Homo sapiens: one gene and its partner. The protein of the gene in region 2 purifies or fractionates together with the protein of the main gene of each other region. This does not show direct contact. Each region holds a gene or a part of one and is shown on either strand. Other genes may lie near its edges.

Evidence for each region. Proteins that work in one complex are often made in the same cells at the same time.
Region 1: the proteins of SLC39A8 (region 2) and MGAT5 purify together in Homo sapiens (affinity purification with mass spectrometry; 3 studies listed by BioGRID and IntAct, with this or other methods). This does not show direct contact.

Annotation. Positions count from the first base shown.
Region 1 is NC_000002.12:134,260,572-134,264,071, forward strand, and holds part of MGAT5 (alpha-1,6-mannosylglycoprotein 6-beta-N-acetylglucosaminyltransferase A), read left to right. Parts: intron 1-3,500. UniProt on the Homo sapiens protein: Catalyzes the addition of N-acetylglucosamine (GlcNAc) in beta 1-6 linkage to the alpha-linked mannose of biantennary N-linked oligosaccharides.
Region 2 is NC_000004.12:102,303,983-102,307,482, reverse strand, and holds part of SLC39A8 (metal cation symporter ZIP8 isoform a precursor), read left to right. Parts: coding exon 1-47; intron 48-1,481; exon of another isoform or gene 1,482-2,287; intron 2,288-2,371; coding exon 2,372-2,494; intron 2,495-3,001; coding exon 3,002-3,166; intron 3,167-3,500. UniProt on the Homo sapiens protein: Electroneutral divalent metal cation:bicarbonate symporter of the plasma membrane mediating the cellular uptake of zinc and manganese, two divalent metal cations important for development, tissue homeostasis and immunity.

The sequences.
Region 1 (3,500 bases), on a different chromosome or scaffold from region 2:
ATTTCATTAAAGATGCAAGCATGTAAAGGGTTTTTTAGTTTGTTTTGTTTTTCCACTTTTTTTTTGTGTCTCTCTTCCTACAAATAGGGAAATATGGTCAAGGAATAGGAATGGTTTCTTTTTTCTTTTTCTTTTTTTTTTTTTTTTGAGGGCTGGGACTGTTGTGGGATAATGTGGAAAACCACTGTTGCCAAAGTAGAAATCCCCTGCCCTTGAGGGAAATACACTGTTCTTGAAGTGAAAATGGTAGGGAAAAAAATAGCTGGGCTGTTCAGTGTGTCTGAGAAGGCTTTTAGTTACTGTATGGTGACGTGGCTGGTGTGATTAAAGAAAGGGCTTTCTGCTTTAAAAAGCTTGGAACCTAAAAATGGGCCTCTCTGTGGCTTGGGACTTTTCCAGCCATCCTGTGGTAGAGTCCAGCCTGCCCAGTATCCTCATCAAAGCCAGGCCAAGTTCACAAGCACGCCCAGGCCAGTCAAAAGGTCTGAGGAAGACCTCAGAAATGTTTTAGACAGGAGGAGTAAACTCAGAATAAGGGGCTCATTCTTCTACCCCTCAGTCATTAAGACCCTTTCTTTCATGCAGCACCACTACTTCAAGTCTGGATTGAGGAGGGATTGCACGCACATGTGTGAGGTTGGAGTCTCAATCTCAATGTGATTGTCATTGCCATGTTCAAACGATGAGGCTTAGAATGTCCCTTGTCTTACCTGATGGTCATAGCTCTCTATGACCCTCTGCTTCTTCCCAGCTGTGTCCTGGTGCTCTTTTGCTGTCAGAAGTGCTTGAGCAGACCTCTTGCTGCTGTGGACACCCTAAAAAGCTCCGCACCCCCTCAAGTCTACTAAGGCATGGTGGCTCTCTTCTAGGACAAGACTGTTGGGTGGTGGCTGAGCATTCGCCTGTCTTTGAGCGTCTGCATTTGCTCTCCCCCACCCCTTCCTCTCTTCCTTCTTTGTTTGTAAATAAAGTTGGTTAGAACACAGCCATGCGCATTCCATTCTGTTTCAGAGAAGTTAGCCTTCCCTCCTTCACAGGAGGGCCCAAACCCACTGTTACTCTCATTCTTTATAACACTCAAGCTACTTAGCATCAAGTATTTGTTGTATGAGCTGATCATGTGTCTCTCCCACTTACAATGTAAGTTCTGAAAGAGGAGGGACTTTGGTCTGTTTTGTTCCCCACTGTGCCCCAGAGCTTAGTACCTTTTGCCTGGCACATAGTAAGAGCCATGAATGAATAGCAGCAGCCCCTGGTGAAACTCTGTGATGCTCTGTGTGGTACAGTTACAGCTGGGACTCATTTGAAAATCACAGTAATGTTTTTAGTGAAGCAGGAAATGAGAAGAAATTCCCTATGGGCTCTGCATCTAAGAGGCTCCAAGTAGCTCTTATGCATGATCCTAACATGGGAACCATTGTTTATTCTGGAAGGTAGTTAGTGTTTCTGTTGGGCGGATGGAACACATTGTGTTCCTTACTGATGTGTGACCTTGAACAAGTCACCGATCATCTTAAAGCTTACTTCCTCTTTTGTAAAACAGACAATATAATATCATTTAACCTCATAGGCTTGTTGTAAGGATTACAAATGACAAAGTTTATTAAGGCACTTAGATTAATTTAGATTATTCTTGTTCTTTTTTTTTGGTGTTGTTTTTGTTTTATTTTGTTTTGTTTTGTTTTGGAGATAGAGTCTTGCTCTGTCACCAAGGCTGAAGTACAGTAGTGTGATCAGGCTCTAGCAACCTCCCCCTCCCAGACTCAAGCCTTATGCCCACCTCAGCCTCCAGAGTAGCTGGGACTATAGGCATGTGCCACCACACTAGGCTAATTTAAAACAAAAGTTTTTTTCTGAAGATGGAGTCTCACTGTATTGCCCAGGCTGGTCTCAAACTCCTGGCCTCAAGTGATCCTCCCATCTCAGCCTCCAGAGTAGCTGGGACTATAGGCATGTGCCACCACACTAGGCTAATTTAAAACAAAAGTTTTTTTTCTAAAGATGGAATCTCACTGTATTGCCCAGGCTGGTCTCAAACTCCTGGCCTCAAGCGATCCTCCCACCTCAGCCTTCCAAAGTGCTGGGATTACAGGTGTGAGCCACTGTGCCCAACCAGCGCTTAATTAAAATGCATTCATTCCTATTAGTAATCACTAACTCTGGCTTGAATGTACCTGCATCTGTTACCACCCAGGCATAACTGTTCATGTAGATCTGACGTTGTTCATTTGTTTGAACACAGGGCTTCAGCAACCTGTTTATGTAGCTATTCTTAGCATTTACAGGGGTAGAGCCTGACCAGACATGAGAGGAAATATGCTCTGTTTCAGAAGAGGTCAGGCTTGCCACCACCCTACTAAACTAGGAGATGTGGTTGTCATTGCCCTGTTCAAAAGATACAGTTTTCTTCTGTGGGCTGTAAGATAAGCTGGGTATGGCCAAGTTCACCTTTGGATCTAACCAGGGCATTGGTGGTGGTGGTGTTTCTGGCATGGTACAGCAAGCAGGAAGCAGTAGTGTGCGAGGCCACCCTTTCCAAGAAGGTGCGGGCCCTGGCATCAGGTGGGGGACAATGGATAACAATAGGCTTGACCTCTCAGCACTTCTCTGATTCCTTATCTTTTCTATAAAAAAGGCTAAAATTCTTGGTTCCTATTCCCTGCAGCTGGCTACATGTTAGGAAAATTCAAAGAATAGCTTAAGAACTCTATTCAGGTTCCATAAAGCACTTAATATCATCAACAGGCCTAGAAAGGATCTTTTACCAGATTTCGATGCATGGAAACTTCCTCAATAGTAATGACACCCTCTGCAACACCTTAGGAAAAACATTCGCTTCTGGGCACAAGTTCTGGTGAAAGCTTAAATCTGTAGTTCTAACCCAGAAGAGAAGGCTAGTCAGTGTTGCTGAGCATCTGAGCTGCTCTTTGACTTTGGTGATAATTGTTTTATGCCCTTTTCTGTCCAGAATCTGCTGACTGGGACAACTGCAGGGTGGAAGCCACCTTTTTGTCAGTTCAGGAGCAGGCAAATTATCTAACATGTGGCTTTAAAATTCAAATGAGATAAGGCAGTAAGGGTCACTAAGATGTTTCTGGTGGGTATTGCCTTACATGACTTTAGGGTACTGGTGGCACTATCTTTGATTCTTAAGAGTACAATTCATTGTACTATGTATATATATTTAAAATAACACTTAATGCCTTTGTGACTTTGAAAATAATGTGAATTTTTATGTAAAATTAAAGCATATGAGGAAGTATGGAGAAGAATAAAGAATAAATACACTCTTTACCTCTAAATGCAGATCTTACCAGATAAAATTGATTTCCCTTTAGTTCTTTAAAAAAAAAAAGTGATACGTACATGTGTGTATATGTGTATATATGTACATGAATATATGCTTTTTTAAAAATTAAGATACTGCATTTCCTTATGCCATTAGGTTTTTTTTTTTTTTTTTTTTTTGAGATGGAGTTTCACTCTTGTTGCCCAGGCTG
Region 2 (3,500 bases):
CTATTGGGACTCTTTTTTCAAATGCAATTTTCCAACTTATTCCAGAGGTAAGGATGTTGGCTATTTGTTTCTGTGAATAATTGTTTCTTTTGAACGTTTTAGCACTTTGTATGTTTTTAGCCTCCATAATTCTTACAGCGTTTTATGGTCTAGTTTATAGTGTCTTGGATAAGAGAAAGCTGAATCACAGCAATTGTAAAGGCTTGTCCCAAGCTGCAGTGGATATCACTATCAGAGACAAAATTAATATTCTAGGAGGCCAGCCACTAGGACGTGCTCAGACAGCTCTGGGACACCTCAGAAGGCCTTAAAACTTTATTCTGCCTTGCACTTGGCAAATTTAATTTTTCCACACACTGTTTCATTATTTATTTATTTATTTATTTTTCTAAAGAGCATGCAATGTCAACTGTACTGCAAATGTCAAATGTAAATTTATAATGTATTTAACATATACCACTAAATTCCCTCATATATTTACTACAGTTATAAGTGACTAGAGAGTAAATGAGAGCATGGTTGACAAACCTTTTCATTTTTTCCAACTGTGGAAAAAATATCAATTGAGGACTAATAAATAAATAGCAACTTATTTTTTTTCTTTGATAAAATGTGTTATTGATCTATCTTGACTATAGTGCACACTATTCAATTTATTTCAAATCTGTGTTGTGCCCATATAAGGAAGAGAAATGGAGGAAGGGAAATAAATGAAAGGAAAAGAGAGGCAATGTTGAAGAGGAAGGAAAGGAGAAAGAGACTTTCATAGAAGGGATCCACAAAGGGGAACTAGAGAAATATATGTATACATGGACTGTATCTGCCACCCACAATGCACACACACAGGGAGAGACAAACCCCATACAGAGAGAAAATATTAATAGTATTTCAGGGAGTACCACCCTTATCTCGTAATTTTTAGAAAATTATAACTAAAGCTTCCTTTAATTTTTCAAGCTATACATTGAAAGTGGGTATATAACTTTTTAGAGTTATAGATTTATTATCATTATTTGATCTAGGACCTAAGATAATATCTATTTCACAGCCTCAATTGTAGAGATAAAAAATATTAAAATTTAGGGTGGTTAAATAATTTGATTATAGCCTTACAATCAGCTAGTAACAAAGCTAGGATGACAATACAGATTTTCTGATTTAAAAGAGTATTATATACATAATACATTTAATATGATATAATATATGTATTTATTATCTCATCTGCTTTATGGGTCAAAGTAAATTAAACAAACTAATACTGTATGTGGACTAAAGACTCTACATTGATGATGTTAAGGTTTTCTATTTTCTTGAAGTTTAACAATATAAAGAATCTGTCTTTGTAATAATCTCTCAAATTTTCATAGAGTTTTTTGTAGCAAAATGATTTTCCTTTTCTTATTTCACTTTATTTTCATAACCTCAATGTTAGGTAAATGGAACATTTATATTTATATAGCCATTTTGCATTGTATAAACAGGCACAAAGAAGTTATTCAAATGAGGATGCGGCCATGATGTCTCCCCAGAGGCAAACATAGGACAAGAACCCAGACATCTTCTATTCTGCTTCAGAGGGGAGATTTACAATGTGTGGAATGGTGTAAAGTTGTGGCTTTTCACCCATTAGTCTCTCCTCTGATTCTATTTATTTGAAGTTTATGTGTCTTGTCTGTTAGGAACATCTTGACTCTTTATAACTTCAAACTCTAACTCCAGTTCTTTGTCCTTTAAAGAAAGAATTATTCCATTCTTATTGCTGTGTGTGTGTGAAAGAGAGAGAGAGAGTGGTGGCAATTTTAAATCTTCTTTTTGCTTTTATTCTTGGGCCTAGGCCTTGATTTATTTACCTTTTTAGGATTTATCACAGTTCTGTAGGTATAAGAGGATTTCTCTTGGGAAAACAGTAATCCAAGTGGCCTGCCATATTTGTTTTAAAAGTTTGATTCTGGATATCATGGACTAATATATTACTTTTAGAGACAGTAGGTAATCAATATCTCATTTATCTTCATTATCTAGACCTAATATCGTATTCTAAAGATGAGAATCAGAGCTGCTGCTTTACTGCTAAAAGTTTACTCTTTCAAGGCAAATATTGCTGTAGGTGTTATAGGTGGGAAACTGTAAGATTCTCTGGTGGCTTTATTTAATGAGACTTCTAGTTGTAAGGTTTTTGTGCCATCTCATACAGTTTTGTCATTCAAATTTCAAAGTTTTTGTTTTGTGATTTTTGGCAGCTAAGTTTCCAATATTACTTGGATGTGAAGAGAGACTTAGAACATTGGTGAGAATTGCATACTGGTATTATTTTCCAGAAATCAAGTTAAATTTCTTGGTTTTACTTGAATTGCCCTTTTTTCTCCCTTAGGCATTTGGATTTGATCCCAAAGTCGACAGTTATGTTGAGAAGGCAGTTGCTGTGTTTGGTGGATTTTACCTACTTTTCTTTTTTGAAAGAATGCTAAAGATGTTATTAAAGACATATGGTCAGGTAAATGGACTTTATTTAAAACATCCAATATTTTACCCCCTAAAGCTACTTTATATAGGCAAATAAAGACAGAAATTTTATTTTTAGAATTATGAGAATGGTCCAGTTATTAGGCTTGTGAGTTTAAGGAGAACAAAGAGTCAATATATTGACAAGTATAAGATAAATACTTGATTCATGTTGTAAAATTTGGAGGTTATTTTTGTTTTTTTTCAAGTATCAGCAATTTAATATTGAATAACAGATGTGCATAATTCATATTCTATTCATATTCATCAAAATAAGAGTGTATACGTGTTCTAACACGAACAAACAGTAACAGCAGAATCTAATAAATGAAAATACATGTAAAAAAGAGAAATTTTATATATCTAAAAATACTTCTTTACACATAGAATAGACATACAATTTTCCTCTTATAAATAAAAAGCAGTAAACTCTATTTCCTTGTCTGTATGAATCATCTTTTTTCTTCTTATAATCTCTTTGGTTTTTGTTCCCATATAGAATGGTCATACCCACTTTGGAAATGATAACTTTGGTCCTCAAGAAAAAACTCATCAACCTAAAGCATTACCTGCCATCAATGGTGTGACATGCTATGCAAATCCTGCTGTCACAGAAGCTAATGGACATATCCATTTTGATAATGTCAGTGTGGTATCTCTACAGGTATATGTTAATTCCATTTTTCCTTCATTATACTGCATTCTTTATACTGTGTAAACATGACTGTTTATGCAGCTAAGTCAGTTTTTGTACATTTATGTATGTCAGACTTATTCCTATATATGTGGGGTAACTGGAATGTAAGTCTGCATTGTTTTTCCACCTTCCCTGTATATGTTTACTCTAAACAAGTGAGTTAAGAAAGAAATTGTGGATCACTGTTCTGGACTTCATTATTCTCTAAGATTATTTACTATATGAGAGTCTCTCAATTGCATTTATACAATATTATATAGCAAAATTTATTCAGAGCATTTATTTTACAATTCTTTGAAGA